3 separate regions of the Homo sapiens genome follow, and all the other regions are linked to region 2. Evidence: fine-mapped expression QTL. A gene starts in region 2. Each other region holds a variant in brackets. All regions are shown on one strand. Distances are from middle to middle. Region 1 overlaps LOC105371777 (a long non-coding RNA gene). Region 2 holds the start of KRT10-AS1 (KRT10 antisense RNA 1). Region 3 holds the start of LOC105371777 (a long non-coding RNA gene).

Region 1 (2,854 bases), 52 kb before region 2:
TTTTATTTGCTTCTGTTTTCATTTCTATGGCAGTAAAATGGAATCTCTCTGTCTTGGGGGACACTTGGGAGTGAATAATAGTTAACAACCATAACATCAAGTTCTTGTGTGGGGAGTGCAAGTTTAACTTGTGCTTTATAAGATCTCTGGAGATGTAGTTACAGGTCAAAGCTAAAATGAAAACCGCATTTGCCTGTGTGTTTACAGAATTTCATGTGTCATGTTGTTGCTTATAAGCCATGAAAAGTCATTCTCTAGGTCTCAGCCCATACACTGAGAAATTCAAGGAGAAAGCTTAAAAGAAAAGAAAAAAAAAAGAGCACCTCCTGTTAGATGTGCAGGGCAGAAGCCTAGTGTCAGGTGTCATAGCTAGGGGATGTCAGAGTATCCTCTGCCCTTTTTATTGTCACCGCCAGCAGCAAGGTTGTGGTATCTATAGAAGGCACTGCAGGCCCGAATCCTATCTCTGCCTCCTCCCAGCTGCATGGGCGTAAATAAATCACTTAACATCTGGACTCTCAGATTGCTCATCTGTAAAATAGGATAAAAGTACCACCTGAAGCTGGGCGCCTTGAGGTGGCTCATGCCCGTAATCCCAGTGCTTTGGGAGGCCAAGGCAGAAGGATCACTTGAGGCCTAAAGTTCAAGACCAGCTTACGCGATATAACAAGACTCCATCTCTACAAAAAAATTAAAAAAAAAAAAATAGCCAGTGTTGTGGTGCCCACCTGTAGTCCTAGCTACTTGGGAGGCTGAGGCAGGAGGATTGCTTAAGCTCAGGAGTTCAAGGTTTCAGAGAGCTATGATCACACCACTGCACTCCAGCCGGAGTGAGGGCAACCAAGCAAGACCTTGTTTCAAACAAACAAACAAATAAAACCAGTACCACTTTAAGAGCTTGCCGTGAAGGTTAAAAAATAATGTCTGTAATTCAGCTGGCCCAGTGTCCAAAAAGTAGTAAGTACATAATAACTGATAATTCAAACAAGACCAGCTCAGTCAAAATGCTTATAATATAGATTTAAGGAATCCTTGGTAAAAACCTCCATATGGGGCTAAAATCACTGGCATTTCCACTGACCAGATTTTCATTCTCTCAAGAAATTAAACAAATGGATCATGGCTTCTCTCAAGCTGAGACTGCCTTAGGTTGCTACATTCTTTCCACATCTATAGCAAATGTGTGATTTCTGCAAATCTCTTGCTTAAACCCCCTTTATTTAGAAATCCCACTTGCTTGCTCTTTGTGACGAGTTTAGGTTGGGGAGAAATATGTCCCTTCACATTTGTCCCTTATGTAATAATATAAAAGGAAGTTGTAATTGGATTTCACCACGGGTTCATCATTTGTGTCCCTGGGAAAGTGGCTTTTTTTTTTTTTTTTAATAAAAAGTCAAAACAGTCCTTCCATTTGCCAGAATTGATCCCAGGTATTCCTTATGGAGGTTTGCCATGGGCTTCAGGTGTGACCCCTCGGCATCTGTCCCCTAATCCCCAGTGGGCACTGCTAGTTCTGGCTCAGGACTCTTCACAATGGAAGAACCTCAGCTTCGGGGAGGCTGTAATCAGGGAGATAATATCTGGATATGCAGGTGGACAGGAGGCAGCAGTAAACTACGGGGAATCTAGGCTACAGGTCTGGAATTCCTCAGGAGTCAGTCTGTACTCTACAAG[G/A]CAAAACAAGTGCTAACCATTGAGACTAACTCCAATGAGATAAAGGCCAGCGAAAGAAGCATTCTCAGGAGAAAGGGCTCCCAGGGAAGGTGGAGCAGCAGGGGCTGCAGAAGATCCCTCTGCAGGGAGCACCTGCACACTGGCACCAAGCAAAGACATCTGAGTGCATGTTTCTGGGTGTGTGTGTGTGCATGCATGTGTACATTAGAATGAGAGTAACATCTGAATGTGTCTACATTGTGAATCCACGAATACTTAAATTATTATACTTTGTAGCTTGCCTTTATATTGATACACTCTTTTTTGATTTTGGAAAAATTTCCTCATACATAACACACATTAATGGCCCAGCAGCTTGATTTATCAAGAGAGAAATCAATAAGCATATATTGAATGCTGACTTTGTCCAAGACACTGGGCAAATGGACTAGACATTGAAGAATGGAGGTAACAGCAGACCTAGTACTTGAATACTTTCATGTTGGCTTGGTTGAAATTCTTGATTTAATTTTCAAAAAGACCACATCATTTTGACATAATTCAAGTTGTGTAACAGTTACAGGCTTACTTCACATATTATCTCTGCTATTGAAGTGTCCAAAAAAATCAGGTTATTGTTTTAGTAAGAGAAACAAAAAGTATTGCATATGCTTATGGAAAAACCTTAAACAATAGCCACATATTTGCTAATTTTTATGGTTGATTGTTTGTATTAAGTAAGTAACATCTCAATGATCTCACAGGTATCCAATAATTTTGCTGAGAAATTAATCTTTACCAGATAGATTCAATCTCCACTTTAAAATGTATAGAAAGCCTCCTTTTTGGGAATTAAACATTGGGCACTCATGGACATATAGAATGCCAACAATAGACACTGGGAATTACTGTGGGGAGCAAAGGTTAAACAACTATTGGGTACTATGCTTACTACCTGGGTGATGAGATGAGTCGTACCCCAAACCTCAGCATCATGAAATATACACACGTAACAAACCTGCACATGTACCTCCTGAATCTAAAATTAAAGTTGAAATTTTTTAAAAAAAATCCAGTAGTGGTAAATAAATAAAAATAAAAATCTTCCTTTTTATGAAAGGTATGTATTATTAAATCAAATAAGAATTCAATTTTATTTTAGAAATCTAGAATACTTGTGATATTTTTAAAACTTTTCCTT
Region 2 (2,563 bases):
GAAACTCATGGAGGTTTTATCATTTCAGAATTTCCTCACCCTTTTCCTTGTTTTTAATACTCTAGAGCAAGGAACTGACTACAGAAATTGATAATAACATTGAACAGATATCCAGCTATAAATCTGAGATTACTGAATTGAGACGTAATGTACAAGCTCTGGAGATAGAACTACAGTCCCAACTGGCCTTGGTATGTTAACTCTCATGAAATGACTTCAACTTTATCATACAAAGTTTCATGCTCACCTAAGAATATGCAATGCAACAAAAAAATGCAGAGTTGGAGGTAAGAAAGAGAAAACAAAGTGAAGCTCATGTTAATGGAGGAAAAGTACTACTAGTGTTGATCTAAAAGTGCTGAAACTGAAATGGTGCCATTAAACATACAACAAATTCTGTTCATTTTCTTATTCTTCTATATAATGCCTTACTAAATAATCAAATAAGCGTCACCATACTCAACTGAACAAGGAAGTCACTAAGCCACAAAAAAATCCGTTTCAGAAACAATCCCTGGAAGCCTCCTTGGCAGAAACAGAAGGTCGCTACTGTGTGCAGCTCTCACAGATTCAGGCCCAGATATCCGCTCTGGAAGAACAGTTGCAACAGATTCGAGCTGAAACCGAGTGCCAGAATACTGAATACCAACAACTCCTGGATATTAAGATCCGACTGGAGAATGAAATTCAAACCTACCGCAGCCTGCTAGAAGGAGAGGGAAGGTAAATTTTAAAATGAAAAGTTATCCCAGTTTCTTTTATTCAATATTCCAGATAGCAAGGCTTATCTAAACCCCAAGAAGATGCCAGAGAATGAGAGGAAGGGAGGAGAGAGGGTAGAGTACAGAAAAAGGAGTACGCAACCGCAATCTCACTTTCTCATGAATTTGGCCCAAAATGATTCTTAAGAGTTCTGTGAACTTAACATTGTTTTCAAAGGATGGGTTTTAAAATATATACCTGGCAGGGTTTTATTTTTTCAACACGTTTTGCTTATTTTCTAAATTAACGGCAACTGGAAAGCTACCCACCGTTTTCCAACGTTAGAGATAACCGAATGTGACCTCACCCCGTTTAGTTCCGGAGGCGGCGGACGCGGCGGCGGAAGTTTCGGCGGCGGCTACGGCGGCGGAAGCTCCGGCGGCGGAAGCTCCGGCGGCGGCCACGGCGGCGGCCACGGCGGCAGTTCCGGCGGCGGCTACGGAGGCGGAAGCTCCGGCGGCGGAAGCTCCGGCGGCGGCTACGGGGGCGGAAGCTCCAGCGGCGGCCACGGCGGCAGTTCCAGCGGCGGCTACGGTGGTGGCAGTTCCGGCGGCGGCGGCGGCGGCTACGGGGGCGGCAGCTCCGGCGGCGGCAGCAGCTCCGGCGGCGGATACGGCGGCGGCAGCTCCAGCGGAGGCCACAAGTCCTCCTCTTCCGGGTCCGTGGGCGAGTCTTCATCTAAGGGACCAAGGTCAGCAGAAACTAGCTGGGGTAATCAGAATTAGTTTTAACTTCCTGTGATGGTTTTTTTGCGCTTTAAGCTCTAGAGTTGTTTTAAAAAATTAAAAATCTTAGAGACGGTTCCGTTTGCATTTGTTCACAAACTACTCTTAACACCAGCCGTGAAAAATGGCATGATCAAAATGTCATACCTTAAGCATTTTTTTGGGCTTAACAATGTAAAGTTGAAATTTCCTTCTTTTTACAATATTTGCTTGTTAATTACTAAGGATCCCTACAGACTGTTTAAAATTTTTTTTCCATCATTCACACAGATACTAACAAAACCAGAGTAATCAAGACAATTATTGAAGAGGTGGCGCCCGACGGTAGAGTTCTTTCATCTATGGTTGAATCAGAAACCAAGAAACACTACTATTAAACTGCATCAAGAGGAAAGAGTCTCCCTTCACACAGACCATTATTTACAGATGCATGGAAAACAAAGTCTCCAAGAAAACACTTCTGTCTTGATGGTCTATGGAAATAGACCTTGAAAATAAGGTGTCTACAAGGTGTTTTGTGGTTTCTGTATTTCTTCTTTTCACTTTACCAGAAAGTGTTCTTTAATGGAAAGAAAAACAACTTTCTGTTCTCATTTACTAATGAATTTCAATAAACTTTCTTACTGATGCAAACTATCCCAATTTGTCAGAATTTATCTTTACTTAAGTACATAATACTCTTTAAAATTAAAGATTAGTAACCCATAGCAGTTGAAGGTTGATGTATCCAGAAATTCGGAAGACAGAACTATTGTCATGCCTTTTCTAAGTTTTTTAATCATGTATGTTCAGACCACCGTCAGTAAATTCACTGAGTAAAGTCTGTAAATCCCCAATATTACTCTTTAAGATACACAATATGTGGAAGGCTCCCAGCTCTCTGGCTTTAAATTATTTCAATCCTGGAAATTCTGGAATATCTCAAATAAAACCCCCAAAATAATAATAATTGGAAATTTTATATTTTCTAATTACCTGACTTCTCACCTTTGCCTTTTCTTACTTTCTTCCAGTTACTATATTACTTCTTCCCAATTGTTATATAGCTTGACATATCTTCTGACACCACCCAAGTA
Region 3 (2,854 bases), 32 kb before region 2:
GGAGAATTTTACTCAGTTCCCCTGTGTGACTATGGAAGGTGTTTTTACAGCTTGCAGAGCTGAAGGAGATAGAACTGAACGCTGGCCAGTGGGAAGACAAGAACTGCTCAAGGGAAAGGAAGGTCTCAGTAGGGAGGAGAACCTGATGAAAGTTTTAGTCATCATTATCATGATTATCTGTCACCTCCAGGGTACACAGGTAACAGTTGCATTAAAGAGGAGATCATTTCTGAGGAGCTAAAGGACAATATAATATTATAACACCAAAGACACAAAGCTGAAGTAGCAGGTTACACAATTATTTGCCAATTTGTCCACAGGGAGACTTTTTAGCTGCACTTTCCAAAGCATTGGCACTCTGAAAACTTAATCATATAAAACTACATTCCCAACATGTAGAATATGTATCATAAAACACTTGCTATACACATATATCCAAACATCTTATGTCCTTATGATAATTTATCTCTGAACTAAAAATCTATTTAGGATCACTATGGATCATTTAAATTATGTTTCATTTTGTCAGAAAAAAAAATCAAATAATAAAGCATTATTTTAACTGGCTTTTACCTTTCAGTTAAATTGAACTTTAACTAAACAATCAAAGAAAAATTATTCCTCTATCAATGTTGATCTAAAAATCTTTCAATTGTAGCTTTTTAACTAGGTCAAGCTCCAAGTCTCCTGACCCTAGATTTATTTATTCATTCATTCAACAGATACCTATACATATCCTGGCCATATCTGGTATTTTGCCTCCTCATCCAAGCCACTATTTATGTCTCTCTCCTGGCTGACCACACAGCTTCCACCTGTACCCACCTCTCTTCCACTCTTTCCACCAGAGCTGGGGGGATCATTTTGAAAAAGCTGATCCAGTCACTCCATTGCTTAAAGGCCTTCAAAGGCTTCCTATTGTCCTTGGAATAAAGACCAAAACCCAGCAAGGTATGGCCTGGCCTGGCCCCCTCTACCCTCTTTCAAATCGTGTGCCCTCTCTCCCCCTCTATCTTCTCCAAACCTACTGGTCTTGTTTACTTTATTTTTGTATATATTTAAGATATACAGCATATGAGGTTTTGATATACATATACTGAGTGACAGCAATACTACAGTCAAGTAAATTCTAACGCCATGCTCCTTCCCACTCTGGCAGCTTCTCACAAACTTTCCCTCTTTACCTAGAATGAGCCTCCACCCCCATTTTGGCCTAGTTAACAATCCTAGTCACCAGTTAGGTCCTAACTCAAATGCCCCTCATTAACCAAGTCAGGTTCTCCTATTCTACCTTCTCATACTATACTGTAGTTATCCTTCACAGCTCTTAGCGCAATTTGCAATTATACATTTATTTGTATGAATATTGAAATAATGTCTGGCTCTACCACTGCATTCTCTCTAAGGGCA[G/AG]CGGCCATGTCTGTTTTGCCCTCCACTGTAGCCCTGGCATCTAGCACAGTGCATAAAACAGCACATATACCCTACTGCATAGGAGACAATCAATACTTGTTGAATACCTGTGCACAGAATTACGTACAAATGCTAGAATATTCACTCAGTAAAAGCTGGAATAATGCCTGTATTACTCTCCTGGGCTCAAGCAATCTGTCCACCTCAGCCTCCCAAAGTTCTTGGATTACAGGTATAAGCCACTGTGCTTGACCACCTGTATTACTCTCTAGGTACCATTAAAAGCACTCAATAAACACTGGTTGCACAAACATTGAATGGTGGCGATATATTTCTTCTATTATTTTCTTGAAATAGTCATTGAATTTTTATCCACTGATTTATTAACTCTAAATTTTCCAACACTTATCTTTGGAAAGACTGAATGAACAAACCCTACCTTATTAAGGCGCAGAAGCTAAGGAGTGTCCATCACAAAGGAAGCAAAGAGGATGGTTTGCATAGATTCCATTTGAATCTATTTGTTTTGGTTACTCTATTTAAAATATGCTTGCGTCATATGAAATTGAATTCCACTTACTTCCTTCTCCTTAAATCTTAATAAAGGAATTAGGCTGGCTGTTTGAGACTAAAAAATCCATCAAGAAGTTGTTTGCATTTTACTGAGATATTTGTTGAATTCAATATTTCCAGAAAACCCTCAAGATACTTGTCACTCTATAGGGACACAAAATTTTCTTATCTAATATGTACAATCTTTAACTTGACAATTTCACAAGGCATATTGATATAAATCATATTGCTCAATATCTGGTGACTCAGTAGAAAGTGATCTTCAGTTTCAACAAGCAGTCTTTTAATTCATGACGCTTTTTCTTAAGGAAATTAACCTGAGGACTTTTTCCCATACATCTAAAGAGTACTAGAAGTTGCTTTCAAAACATAGAGTAACTTGGTTTCCATGTAGTATTTATAAGAAAAAAAAATCTGTAGATATTCACTTATAAAGGCAAGCTTGGAATCCTCTAATTCGTCATTAAAGTGTGCTTTGTATGTAGGCAATCGCCTAACCATAGATACAAAACTGAGTTATCTTAAAATGGCTGATGGAACACTGGCTTTCCATGAAAATATTCAGTCTGAAAATGTAATACTCCTGCCAATCTAGATCAAAATAGAACTTGTTCTCCCTTAATAACGAGGTGTTCTATCTAAAAAACATTGTGCTCTCTCTCTTTGGTGGTCTAGCAGTTAGGAATAAAAATTAAAAATAAGTAAAATACACTTTTCTCTCAATCAAACTAATATTTACTGGTCACTATGGAAGCAAATGGGAGCGGACTAGTCAGGTATGCAAATAACCTTGCCTCGCCAGGTATAAAGTGACCTGCCACAGAAGTTTGGAAAAGGGAGGTAATATAAAGGGCTGGGATATGAGGACCAC

The links. PIP is the estimated chance that this variant, and not a neighbour inherited with it, causes the effect.
Region 1: its variant is the best candidate, but not a certain one, in a credible set for the expression of KRT10-AS1 in monocytes after interferon gamma (Fairfax 2014, PIP 0.60).
Region 3: its variant is the best candidate, but not a certain one, in a credible set for the expression of KRT10-AS1 in whole blood (TOPMed, PIP 0.54).

The regions. Positions count from the first base shown.
Region 1 is chr17:40,869,154-40,872,007 of GRCh38, reverse strand. The region is part of intron 1 of LOC105371777 (a long non-coding RNA gene); the gene reads right to left. Among named protein-coding and RNA genes, the nearest start is that of KRT12, 3.4 kb to the right of the region's middle. The variant G/A (reference allele first, on the strand shown) is at 1,675.
Region 2 is chr17:40,817,677-40,820,239 of GRCh38, reverse strand. KRT10-AS1 (KRT10 antisense RNA 1) reads right to left here and starts at 1,095. Exons shown (of 3, transcript NR_160888.1): 1 at 1,032-1,095. It overlaps KRT10 (keratin 10), which reads left to right. Exons shown (of 8, transcript NM_000421.5): 5 at 66-191; 6 at 506-723; 7 at 1,079-1,453; 8 at 1,758-2,123. The coding sequence ends at 1,764. RefSeq lists an enhancer at 1-585.
Region 3 is chr17:40,849,856-40,852,709 of GRCh38, reverse strand. LOC105371777 (a long non-coding RNA gene) reads right to left here and starts at 1,912. Exons shown (of 3, transcript XR_934754.3): 1 at 1,850-1,912. The variant G/AG (reference allele first, on the strand shown) is at 1,411.